Homo sapiens: one gene and its partners. The protein of the gene in region 1 interacts with the protein of each later gene in a biochemical or structural test. Each region holds a gene or a part of one and is shown in the gene's direction. Other genes may lie near its edges.

Region 1 (2,370 bases):
TGATCTCAGGTGATCCACCTGCCTTGGCCCCCCAAAGTGCTGGGATTACAGGCATGAGCCACCACACCCAGCCCCATTTTCTAGCCTGAATATGTCAGTGGTCAGAACATGGATCCTAGAGTCCCTTCCATCTTGGTCTCTCTCGAATAGTTTGAGTGCCTCCCTGTGTTCTGCCCTGTTGCATAACAGAGGTTGCTGGGTTACTCTTAACTACTTTGTTTGGGTTTAACATATTCAATAACTATTTTTGTGTTTTGTGCTCAGAGGGCTGAACATGTCCGAGTTTGTCTGTAACCTGTCAGCAAGGCCTTATGTGTACGACCTCATTGCCGTGTCCAATCATTATGGAGCCATGGGGGTTGGCCACTGTAAGTATTGACATCTGCTTCCTTCTGAGATGTTGAAATGTGCTCGGCCATCATCTCTCACCAGTGGACCAGGCATTGCCCTAAATGCTTTGCTTATGCAGTTTCACAGGCTTCATGCTGCACGCTTTCTTCATACTGATTCCCCTCTCTGTTTTTTTTTAATTCTTTTTTTTTTTTTTTTTTTGAGACGGAGTCTCGTTATGTCACCCAGGCTAGAACACAGTGGCGCAATCTCACTCACTGCAAGCTCTGCCTCCCAGGTTCACGCCATTCTCCTGCCTCAGCCTCCTGAGTAGCTGGGACTACAGGCGCCCGCCACCACGCCTGGCTAATTTTTTGTATTTTTAGTAGAGACGGGGTTTCACCATGTTAGCCAGGATGGTCTCGATCTCCTGACCTCGTGATCCGCCCGCCTCGGCCTCCCAAAGTGCTGGGATTACAGGTGTGAGGCACTGTGCCTGGCTGGTTTGCTCTTTTTTTGAGACAGATTCTCACTCTGTCACCCAGGCTGGAAAGCAGTGGCGCAGTCTCGGCTCACTTGCAACCTCCACCTCCCGGGTTCAAGCGATTCTCGTGCCTCAGCCTGCCGAGTAGCTGGGATTACAGGTGTGCGCCACCACACCTGGCTAATTTTTGTATTTTTAGTAGAGACAGGGTTTTGGCATGTTGCCCAGGCTGGTCTTGAACTCCTGGGCTCAAGCGAACCACCCTGCCTTGGCCTCCCAAAGTGTTGGGATCACAGGTGTGAGTCACCGTGCCCTGCCTGTGTTCATTTTTATTTGCTAATTTTTGCACACAAACATACCATTTGGGCAAGTTTCTCATCCTCAGTTTTCTCATCCATGAGGTTAGGCTGGTTGTGTGAGGGTCCACATTGGGCCTACAGTTGGAACTTCAAAATTGAAAGCCACCGTTGCTGCTATTGTGTCAAGCACAGACTGTGTGAACTGGCCTTGGGCACCTTCTCTGTTGCCCTTTCCCATGATCCTCACCACCACTTTGTGCAGTCAATGCTATAGTGAGGAAACTGAGGCTGAAGTGTTAAACACCTTACCTAAAACCACACAGTAAGTTGACACTGGATATCAGATCTCCATTGGGTTCTGTAGTTTCTGAGAGTCTGGGTGGAGCAGGAACTGGGCTGGGATTGCTGTAATAAACACATCCTGCTTGGGAATAGTGTAAAGTCAAGACAAGAAGCATTGCCTCTGGGAAATGCTTGAATCATTGTGGGAAACTGTTACCTAACCACAGACTCTGGACTCCTAGTTTTAGAGAAAGATAAATTTTTTTTTTTTTGGATATGGAGACTAAGGTATGTTGTTCACATCCCAGCTCTGCAAACCCAAACACCCAATGTTCCTCTAACTGGGATTATTCTGTAGGCTCCCGAGGCACTAAGCATTCTGTTGATGTTAGTAGCCACCTGCCTAGATGCAATGGGGGAGACTGACTTGGCATGTCCTTGTGAGAGCTATTGTTTTGCTTAAATCTTAGAAGTTTCAGCTCCTTTTATGGGTTCCCTGGTTTTGGATTATTGCACATAGCCATCCTGAAGATTGGCACTGAATAGCTCTGTTTTTTCTATTAGTTTCCCAAAATTATAGTTTAAAATCTTGGTCCCTGACAGCTCCATTTTTAGCCTTTTGATCCTTTTTGAGAAGGAACAGATTAGAAAAGAAGGTGAGTTGTTTTTTGGTTGTTAAGACACACACTGTAAACTTTTTTAATTTCAGGGGTTTTGTTTTGGGGATTTTTGTGTTTATTTAGTGCAAGCCTAATAAGCTAGCCAGATTAATTCTCTGGAGACCGCTAGAGTATTTTCTTTGTTGACTTGGCAGACACTGCATATGCGAAGAACAAACTGAATGGTAAATGGTATTACTTTGATGATAGCAACGTGTCCCTGGCCTCTGAGGATCAGATAGTGGTGAGTAGGCCATGATATGTGGTTCTTCCTCATGTCGTTATGGATTAAAGCTGGGAAGAGCCTCTATCAGGC
Region 2 (3,665 bases), on another chromosome or scaffold:
TTTGGGAGGCCGAGGCGGGTGGATCATGAGGTCAGGAGTTTGAGATCAGCCTGACCAATATGGTGAAACTCCTTCTTTACTAAAAATACAAAAATTAGCCGGGCAAGGTGGCATGTGCCTGTAATCCCAGCTACTCAGGAGCCTGAGGCAGGAGAATCACTTGAACCTGGGAGGTGGAGCTTGCAGTGAGCCGAGATCGCGCCATTGCACTCCAGCGTGGGTGACAGAGCATGACTCCATCTCAAAAAAAAAAAAAAAAAAAAAAACCACAAAATCTATTCAACAGATATTTAGTGAACAGCTACTATCCAAGGTGCTCTGTGTCCTAGGCAGACCCAGATTCTACCCTCAAAAAAAATATACTTTGGATATTTAAGAAATTCACATAAAGGAAGAAAGCAATACATGACATAAAAGACTTCAATGTTTACCAAAATGAAAGAATATGTAATAAAGGGTATAGAATGGTCAGAGATGTCAGAAATAAATTTGCTGGATTCCCAAGAAGCTCTCACTGTGCGGGAGAGCTAGGTTAGATCACTATGGCTCACAACCTGCTCTCAGCTATAAAGGTCCTGGACCCAGAGATGGTCAAGTCCAAGGAGATTGGCATACATGCACACCAAGCTTACCAGGGATTGAAAAACCAAAAGGCCAATGACTAGATGAACTGGATAATTAATTATGATTTAAAGATGGGCCCAGACTAAAGGGATCTGGATGGTACTGGAGATACTTCAGCCACACAACACAAATGTGCAAGCCAGACTTCCAACACAGCCTTTCTCTCCAAGAGCATAGACCAGATACAGTATTACCCATTCTTAGGCAGTATTGGATAAATAGAGGATCTGGTAGATACAGATATATGCTATCAATGGTAACTATTATGAGATTTCAGAAAGTTAAAAGTTGCATTCAGCCATAAACATCAAGGGACACTTTATGGAAGAAGTGGTAGTCTGACAATGTCTTTGAAATTGCATAGAGTTTGCAGTGGTGACTTGGGGAAGAACACTGTAGACAGAAGGGAAAGCATGAACAAAGAAAGTGAGTGGTTTATTTTTGCTGGAATTCAGGGTATACAATGGAGGATAGTAGAATGTTATGAGAGAAATTGGAACCAGATCATGGAGGGGTCTTGAAAGCTAGTTAGGAAGTTTAAGTGTTATTCTTTGTGTAATAGGGAGTCATCATAGAAAAAAACATGATTAAGGCCGGGCACGGTGGCTCACGCCTGTAATCCCAGCACTTTGGGAGGCTGAGGTGGGCGGATCACTGTAGGTCAGGAGTTCAAGACCGGCCTGGCCAATGTGGTGAAACCCCATCTCTACTAAAAATTCAAAAATTAGCTGGGTGTGGTGGCAGGTGCCTGTAATTCTAGCTACTTGGGATGCTGAGGCAGGAGAATTGCCTGAACCTGGGAGGCGGAGGTTGCAATGAGCCGAGATCACACCACTGTACTCTAGCGTGGGCAACAGAGCTAGACTCTGTCTCAAAGAAGAAAGAAAGGAAAGAACAAAAAAACATGATTAGAACTGTACTCTGAGAAAATTAACTTGGTTGCAGTGTGTAAGTTGACTGGGAGGAGGGAATCCTAGCTGCAGAGGCCTTTGGGAAGCTACAAATTCTATATAGGAGGACTGAAACTAGGACAATATTGGTATAGGTGGAGCAGAGACTTTAAGGTACAAACCAGGAAGTATCATAGTATTTTCCTTGCATGCACACACATGCACACACACTCCAAAGCAAAATATAACCTATAACCTATGTAACCCAAATATAATATAAAAGAAAATCATTCTTTATTTCTATGAAATTCTCCATTTATAAAGAACAGAAGATTGAAAAACCATTGATTCATGTAGCCAATTTAATTGAGTTTTAGATAGTCTAAATATCAAATTTGTTAAAAATGGAATTTCCAAAGCACCAACATAGTGGGTATCCATACCTAAATAGACATCTTCAGGGAAAAGAAAAAAATATCCTACATAAGTAAATGTTCTTCTTTCCCAGGATAACTAGGTGATTTCTCCAAATCGACTTTGTTTCAAATACTTTCTAACATTAGCTAACCCAACTAATAGGAATGTTGCAGAAAACAGAAACAAGAGCTTTGTGAGAAGTTTGATTACCTGTATGGCATTTTGGAGGAGAGGAAGAATGAAATGACCCAAGTCATTACCCGAACCCAAGAGGAGAAACTGGAACATGTCCGTGCTCTGATCAAAAAGTATTCTGATCATTTGGAGAACGTCTCAAAGTTGGTTGAGTCAGGAATTCAGTTTATGGATGAGCCAGAAATGGCAGTGTTTCTGCAGGTAAGTCTCTTTTTGGCACCAAAGTAACAACCCAAAAGGTGGGTGTTGGAAAATTAGTTATCACATTTTTATTATTTTATGTACATTTCAGTTTTTATTTATTTTACCAACTAAAATATAAACCCCATGTGCTTATATATTAATCTATTTAAACAACTTAAATAGCATGTCTATGATACTGCTTAAATCTAATAGGGTTCTGTTATAAGACAGCAGTTATTTATGACATTTAGAAACTAAGCTATGAGATTCTCAGAGTCAACAAAGGAAATAATTGTCTTACCACTGTCTTTTGTGGAAATAATTTAAGTAAGACTATCTTTTGTTTGCTTTCACAGAATGCCAAAACCCTGCTAAAAAAGTAAGAACTTTTTATTTTATGTAAAAATGCATATTTTCACCTTTACCCAAGGCTATCCAATTTTCAACAGTGACAGAAAGTGGCAACTTGTCTTTGTTGCAGAATCTCGGAAGCATCAAAGGCATTTCAGATGGAGAAAATAGAACATGGCTATGAGAACATGAACCACTTCACAGTCAACCTCAATAGAGAAGAAAAGATAATACGTGAAATTGACTTTTACAGAGGTTTGTTATTCTTTTGACCATTTGGCCGAAGTTGCAGGTGTGTGAAAGCTGCCGAAGAGTTGGGTGGGAGGAAAGCGGGGATTCAGAATCACCTCCAGAATCAATGTCGACAACTTTACAAGGATCATATCCAATGTGAAGCTCTATTTCATTACAGGATCACATCGTTTGTTGACAGTGTTTATTTAGCTTTGCACATATGGTGCCTTTTTTTTTTTTTGATGGACTCTCACTCTGTTGCCCAGCCTAGAGTGCAATGGCACGATCTTGGCTCACTGGAACCTCCACCTCCTGGGTTCAAGCGATTCTCCCGCCTCAGCCTCCTGAGTAGCTGGGATTACAGGCACCTGCCACCACACCCGGCTAATTTTTGAATTATTAGAGAGGTAGGGTTTCGCCATGTTGGCCAGGCTGGTCTCGAACTTCTGACCTCAGGTGATCCACCTGCCTTGGCCTCCCAAAGTGCTGGGATTACAGAAGTGAGCCACCATGCCCGGCCTGGTGCCTATTTTAATGTCAGGTTGGGTATTTGACTCTTGATAAGCAAATGCTTCATAATTGATAATGATGATATCTCAACTTCAATCCTATGCACAGTGTTAGCCAAAATAATGTAAAGTGTCAGCAGGAGCAAGGTTAAAGATGAGATAAAAACAATACATAGGAGGCATGTGGGTTAGATATTGCAGCACATCAACTTAATCAAAATTTAGAGGACAAGAATAGTAACAACTCATAGAATAAGTCACA
Region 3 (3,665 bases), on another chromosome or scaffold:
TGCAGTCCCAGTGTTCCAGCTCAGGACCAATGAGGTTGATTTGGTGCTTGTCTCCTTTCTAGAGGAGGCAAGGCTCTTAGGATACACCCAAAGGACCTTATGTTCCGGATTAGGTTCCGCAGGCTCCTCAGCAGTGATCAGTGGTGTGGCCTTCTAGGGAAGACCAGTGGGTAGGTGTGGAGGAACAGAATTTAATTCCTCCCAGGCCTTTCAGCAGGCCCTTTACCGTTAAGAAGGAAAAACAAAACTATTCCTTTGTGCCATGGTGCAGTAGAAGTTAGAAGCCTATTTCATCCTGAGAGGAGCATGATGGGAATATCCCTGAAAGCAGCCAGAGGAAGTCAGCCTTTGGCAGGATGCATGAACCGACTCTGGCCCCAGCAAGGGCAGGGAAAGTGTGCTATGCGGTGTGTGTGTTCCTGGGCTCTGTGTTGGCTACAGGATCTGCCTAGTCCTCTCTTGGGTTGTAGGAAACACCATGGGATGATTGTTTTTACTAATTGCAGTGGTTGTGACCCCACGATTCCTCTCCTCCCATGAGCACGCTGTCTTCCGGAGACTTCTGTCACTTCTCACCATTGCTGGTTATCCTCCATTTTGCCCAGTAACTCCGCTTTCCTCTCTCGAGGGATGAAATGCCTCTTGTTTTGCCTGATACTTTATTTCATGACATTTGGTTCCGTGAAGGGATTTCACCATCCACTCTTAGGGGAACACCAAAACTTGTCTTAAGGCCGGCACAGGCCTCTCATCCCCTTCCTGTCGATGTCTTGGAGCCATGGATGGTTACTTTTCCAGTTACTTTTGACTCTCCCACTGGCATCATCCGCGGTGAAGCAGCTTGACGTATAGGGGTCGAGGTCGTTAAATTATTACTGAATTGAGTGAAACATATCATGGCCTTTGAGGCTTCTGTGGCAGGGGCTGGGGACACACAGCTCTTAACTGCCTTGGCCTGGAAGTGTCATGGGTCACTTACTCCCATCACCCATTGGCCAGAGCTAGTCATGTGACCCAACCTAACTGCAGGAGATGCTGGGAAATGTGCAGTTACTGTGCACAAGTTATTACAGGGATTCAGAGTTAAGTCGGATATCTTTACTCCCTCAGAACTTAGCATCCGCCAGGAAATCGCAAACATCTGCCGGCCTATGTGATCCTGAGGAAGAGCTGCTTCTGCCTGCTCTGATGAGTAATTTCAGGCCTCCTTCCTCTTTCTTCTCATACTTTTAAACCCGTGCTTGCCATGTAGATGAGGGAACAGGGAGGTGCCCCTGGCCATCTTTCTCGAGGCCCTGCCCCCTTAGCTGGCAGCGCTAGACTGTGCTCCTCCTGGGAGTTGAATCAGGAAGGAGTGCTGGCACCTCTGGGATGGCGCGTGTGCTCTGCTGAGAGCCCTTGTCGCCGACAGATGGGCTTGCACGGGGTCTCCACTGCTTGGGACCTTTCTGTTTGTCCCCAGCATGTGTGCAGTGGGGAGGCCTTTCTTCTGGAGCTGAAAGGAAGAGGATGAGAAAGTGAATGCTCTCCCACAGGCTTGCTGTTCACCCCCACCTGACCCTGAGGTGGAGATTTCCAGTAGCAGGCAGGCTCCATAGCCTCCACGTACACAACCATATCATTTCAGGACAGCTGCTCTCCTGGTTTCGGGTCAGAAGTTCTTAGAGTTCATCTTGAGCTTCTACCTGCTACAGACCCAATTCTTTGAGTAATCTAGAATGATACCACAGAGCGGAATTCAGCTTCTCTATAGAGATCATATCCCCAATAGACATTTTGGGTCATAGTAGGGCCTTCATGTACAGCTGTGCAGGGCGTGCACTGCACAACTCTAGAGTATGTCATTTACACTGGGGTCTATGTGAATGGTGCCCCCTGGAGTTGTGCAGGGTGAAATCTCTACAAAGGTACAAGGCAGACTGTGATAGCTTCAAAAGAATACCGTGTTTGACTTGCCTGGGAGTCGTTTAGAGAAAGTATTGCTCGAGGCTTTTTGTGACATACTTTCTCGGTTTCAGAAGGGCTGTTAGGCACTCGAAATGACTTTAGCTCAGTTTTAAATTTGGAAGATGGTTTGGTATAATAAGGGAACTCCTGAGACGATTTGAGGTTTAGAGATCTGGATTTAGGGCTCTAGGAACTTTATCTCTTGTAAGAGGTACTTAGATTCCTATTACAATGGCTCATTACACATGGGTGTGAACACACACACTCACACTCACGCCTTCCTTTTATGCGCTAGGGAACACTGGGACTAAGAACCGCAGCACTGAAGCTTTTATGGATTTGAATGTGGTAGCAACTTAACTAGTATTTTTTTTTTTTTTTTTTAACTAACTTGACGTGGGAGTTTCCATATATTACTTTGGTCATTGTAAACTCCAAAAGCTTCTTCTGGAAAATATTTCCTGAGATCTTCTCATGGCTCTTTCACATTCCTGCTTTTCCAGCCAACTGGTAACGGAAGCCTTTATATCTTTACCTTAGGACAACAGAATTGAGTGAAACAGTCACGTTTGGATTGTCAGACTTGGTACCTTCTTTAGAGCCCAAGAGAAAACATCTTGAGTCCCATAGTAATATGTAACCCCTGGGATTATATTTGACATTATTTCCTTTTTAACCCTCTACACTGGGTAAAGGATAGAGGTCCCATGCCATTTGCTCACCTGAGTTTCTTTTCTTCTACCCATATCGTAGGCCCTTTCTTTCTTCTGTTACATTTAAAGGGGTAGTAGCGTGGCCACTTCCCTGGAGATGCATCTTCCTCTTCACTAAGTGTAGGGTTTATCCACTTTCTCATGTCTTCTTTTTATTAAAACACAATCCCTGTCCTCCAGAAGTCTCTAGTCTAAATGACAACTTCTTCAGTAGTCAACATCTCCGTGCTATATCCTAAAGGCACAGCTTCTTTGTGTGTAGAGGAATTTTCAGATGCCTTCACAGTATATTGCAAGGAATTGGAAACGGGGATGCTTTTTCACACATGGCTGAGAAGCCCTTGGGTATGTGGATGCTGATACTCCTTGAAGTTAAAACATTTCTGTGCCCAGTTTTTATGAATACTTCAGGCTCCTAAATGAACCGAAACTAGGCCCGCCTGCCTGTTCCAGGATAGCCAGGTGGCACTTTGCCCCTCACGTGGGAGAGGCGCGGGCATGGAGATGGTCCATTGCAGGCCCATGAGATGCCAGCTTCATGATAAAGCACATGAGGTCCTTTTAAAAGAAATTGTACATGAAGGAACATAGCGCGTTTCAACAAGATCCCCGAACAGAAGGCCAAAACAAAGCTCCCAAGTTGCACAGGCCCCTTCCCCTCACAGAAAAGATAGGCCATTTCTACAACAGATGGCCCTCAGCCCTGGGTGGAGCCTAAGCTTGGTGGCATCACCACCTTGAGGTTTTCCTGACAGAACCTAACGTGTTCTCGAGTTTCTTTCTTTCTTTTTTTTTTTTTTTTTTGAGACTGAGTCTTGTTCTGTCACCAGGGTGGAGTGCAGTAGCACGATCTCAGCTCACTGCAACCTCTGCCTCCCAGGTTCAAGTGATCCTCCTGTCTCAGCCTCCCCAGTAGCTGGGACTACAGATATGTGCCACCACGCCCAGCTAATTTTTTGTATTTTTAGTAGAGATGGGGTTTCACCATGTTGGCCAGGATGGTCT
Region 4 (3,665 bases), on another chromosome or scaffold:
GAAAATGCTGGGCTTGTAGGGAGTCGGTGGGAGGGGGGACAGACCGTGGCTGGAGTGCAGTGGCACGCTCAACGCACACTGCAGCCTCAACCCTTCGGCTCAAGCGATCCTCCTACATCAGCTTCTTGAGTAACTGAGACTATATGCACACATCACCACACTCAGCTAATTTTTATATTTTTTTTGTAGAGATAGGGTTTTATCACGTTGTCCAGGCTGGTCTCAAACTCCTGGGGTCAAGCAATCCACCGGCCTCAGCCTCCCAGAGTGCTGGGATTACAGGCATGAGCCACCACACCGGGCTAATAAGTTATTTTTTAGGAGAATAAGCATGATAACAAAGTCAATATTAATCTGAAAACTTAAAATAATTCTGTAAACAGTGCCTATTTTGCAGTAATCATGAGGTATAAGATTGAGTCAACACCCCTGAAAGTACACCTTCTGTAGTGAAAATACCAGCTGAGAAACTCACTGTGCCATTTTATCATTGGAAAAAATAATACAATGCTGTTCCCTGATAAAAGCTCAGAAGAATTTTTTAAAATAATTTTTATTTTTAAAAGTTAAGGTGGGTTTTGGTTTGGAGGAAGAGTATTTGACAGTTAATTGTAGGAATTGAGATACTGCCTTTTAAACCATTTATAGTAATTTATGTCATTAAATGAGTGATTTGTGTTTGAGGATAAACACACATCTGAGTATGGGCTACTTTTCCATTTATTTGGGATCACTCCTGTGTAGTTTTCATGTAACATTTTTCCAAAGAGTTGATCTGGAGTGTGAGATTATCTTCAGCAAGCGAGTAACAGTGTTTCCAGACCTGAATTTGCTAAGGACAAAAGCCAAAGTAAATATATGAAGTTATTGAGAGAAAAAGGTTAAAGGTGATCACAGTAGAGATCACCAATGCCTTTTTGTGGTTGCAAACAAACTAGAAAAACCTAACCAAAAGATCTGAACTACGTCTCCAGAAGACACTCCTTAAAGCCAGAAATTACAACTGGAACTGAGAACACTTGAAAATGAGCGGTGGGGTTTATTTATGAAGATTCATTAGCATTTAATGCTGACTTGTCAAGATTTCAACACTAGTTAATAATAGCACTTTTTAATGGAAATGGCAAAAAACAGCATGTTAGCAAATATAGCCTTCCTATCCCTTCTGGATTAGTTAAATAATTAATGACCTCACCTTGGCGGGAGAGCCCCAGGGAGGAGAGACCCAAGGGAAACGTAGTTTTTCTCCAGTGCCACTTCTGCTAATGAACAGTACCTTTCTCCTAGGGCCAGTCTGATTGAAAATCCAGTTTCCACCCTGGAGGAATACGTTTTAAATTCTGGTATCCCAGTTTACTATTCATGAAAACAACAGTTGGCTGTCAACCTGCGATGTGATTTTGGTTAGACTACATTGTCTGTTACCGGAATGATTACTTATGTTTTCAAGTGAAATGTTAATTTAGCCTGTCAAATAGTGTATGCCCATTGTGATACAAATAAGGAGCTCTTCTCTCACTCCGTTTTTGCACTTGATCTCATGCTGTCTTGTTTAATGTGTGTAACTTTCTTTTCTGTTCAAATGTGGCTTCCTGAATTTCACGGGAAACTCCTGAGGCTCTTTTCCCCCGTCCCTTCACTCCCGCAAGTCAGGTTGTCGAGACTTGGCCAGTGCCAGTTCAGAGGACTGTCTGATCCAGGGGTTCCTGGTTGCCCAGTGCTTGGGGAGCTTATCCCATGTATCATACTTAGCCCCTCTTTCACTATTTTTAGTCCAGTTCTACTACACAAAATGTTGCAAAAATCTTTTTAATTATATTATTTCCTTTTTTCTTTGTAACTCTTGCCCATATCTTTAGGGAGAAAATGATCGCTTTCTTTCCTTTCTTTCCATTTGTAAGCAAAACAAAAACCCCACAAACCCTTATCCTACCCACATAAGGGTATAAAAAGCCCACTGGAGTCCTTAGAAGTACCTTGCAAAAGCCCTTAAGAAGTTTGTTCCCTTCTTTCTTTCTAATTAAATTTCATTTCTTTAAGCAGTAGCATTCAGTGTAAATAACAGTTTGTTTTTTTTTTACTCCTTCTAATTTTTCAGTTTCAATAACATGAGAGGAGTTTTCTTCTTGCTATTTTTGTTACCTGAAGTAGTTCTGCTGTATTTTGAGTTAAATTCTCCTTTACAGGCTAGCATATATAACATGGTTTCTTTTCAACACAATTCATTTTAAATTTGTGGAATTCTTAAACTATTGTATTCCTATATCACAGGCAAGCCTGTGATTAGGTACCAATAAATACTAATTGAATTGTTTCTTAATTTCTGTTGAACTGTGTTTTGTATTTCATTTGTATAAAATTGAGATCTTTTGTAGTATCTAAATGGCTAAGAGTGACCTTTGGAGATCTACGCTTTAATTTCGTTCATTTGTTCAGAAATCTCAATGTTTACAATGTGTCGGCTGGCCCTGTGCTGGCTTCAGTGGAGTGTTCACTAAATGAATATCATTCCAAATAACTTAATAAAACAGTAGCTATGAGAATGACTTTTAAGGAATGGGTACTACCTTAGGGTGGTCTTGAAGGTTTCTCTGTGAAACTAACATTTGAGCTCAGATCAGAATGACAAAGATGAGTCATATATTCAGAGATGGGGGCAGTGGGGGTTGCTAGAGTAAAGGGGCCAAGGCAGGCAGGAACTCCAGGAGCAGAAGGGATGTGACTGGAGCCTCAGGATGGGTTGTCGGGGGCTGTTGGCGGATGAGGTCAGAGTGGTAACCAGAGCAGGGATGGCCTGGTGTTTGTGGGCCACGGTTAGAAGCTGGGAATTTAGGGCAGGCGCGGTGGCTCACGCCTGTCATCCCAGCACTTTGGGAGGCCGAGGCGGGTGGATCATGAGGTCAGGAGTTCGAGACCAGCCTGACCAATGTGGTGAAACCCTGTCTCTACTAAAAATACAAAAAAAATTAGTCAGGTGTGGTGGCGCGTGCCTGTAATCCCAGCTACTCAGGAGGGCTGAGGCAGGAGAATCGCCTCAACCCGGGAGGCAGAGGTTGCAGTGAGCCAAGATTGCACCACTGCACTCCAGCCTGGGTGACACAGCAAGACTCCGTCTCAAAAAAAAAAAAAAAAAATGTTGAGAATTTATTCTAATTGCAATGAGGATTGGAAGCAGAGAAGTAGCGTTTAATTTTCAAATGCTCATGTAGGTTGCTTTGTAGAGAATAATTTCAGGTATTAGTAATTCTAGAGACATTTTGAACTGTATTGGGCTGCGGATAAGGAGTAAATAGGTCTACCAACTTGTGGCCTTTCCTTCTCAGCAACCCCTACTTTTTTTCTTTTTTTTTTTTTATAAGACAGAGTCTCACTCTGTTGCCCAGAGTGGAGTGCAGTGGCGCCATCTCAGCTCACTGCAACCTCCGCCTCCTGGGTTCAAACTATCCTCCTGCCTCAGCCTCCTGAGTAGCTGGGATCGCAGGTGCCCATCACCACGCTTGGGTAACTTTTTTTGTATTTTTAGTAGAGACAGGACCAACCATGTTGGCCAGGCTGGTCTCGAACTCCAGACCTCAGGTGATCCACCCGCTTCAGCCTCCCAAAGTGCTGGAATTACAAGCATGAGCCACCACACCCGGCCAGCAACCACTACTTTTAAGCCAACT

Evidence for each region. The genes of interacting proteins can lie anywhere in the genome.
Region 2: of the proteins of USP4 (region 1) and TRIM55, one has a biochemical effect on the other in vitro, tested with the Homo sapiens proteins (one large-scale study listed by BioGRID).
Region 3: the proteins of USP4 (region 1) and TCF7L2 form a complex in vitro, tested with the Homo sapiens proteins (one study listed by BioGRID).
Region 4: the proteins of USP4 (region 1) and RHEB form a complex in vitro, tested with the Homo sapiens proteins (one study listed by BioGRID).

What each region holds. Positions count from the first base shown.
Region 1 is NC_000003.12:49,278,742-49,281,111, reverse strand, and holds part of USP4 (ubiquitin carboxyl-terminal hydrolase 4), read left to right. Parts: intron 1-264; coding exon 265-368; intron 369-2,209; coding exon 2,210-2,298; intron 2,299-2,370.
Region 2 is NC_000008.11:66,147,552-66,151,216, forward strand, and holds part of TRIM55 (tripartite motif-containing protein 55), read left to right. Parts: intron 1-2,093; coding exon 2,094-2,327; intron 2,328-2,665; coding exon 2,666-2,688; intron 2,689-2,790; coding exon 2,791-2,915; intron 2,916-3,665. UniProt on the Homo sapiens protein: E3 ubiquitin ligase that plays an important role in regulating cardiac development and contractility, muscle growth, metabolism, and fiber-type differentiation.
Region 3 is NC_000010.11:113,152,670-113,156,334, forward strand, and holds part of TCF7L2 (transcription factor 7-like 2), read left to right. Parts: intron 1-3,665. UniProt on the Homo sapiens protein: Participates in the Wnt signaling pathway and modulates MYC expression by binding to its promoter in a sequence-specific manner. Acts as a repressor in the absence of CTNNB1, and as activator in its presence.
Region 4 is NC_000007.14:151,492,308-151,495,972, reverse strand, and holds part of RHEB (GTP-binding protein Rheb), read left to right. Parts: intron 1-3,665. UniProt on the Homo sapiens protein: Small GTPase that acts as an allosteric activator of the canonical mTORC1 complex, an evolutionarily conserved central nutrient sensor that stimulates anabolic reactions and macromolecule biosynthesis to promote cellular biomass generation and growth.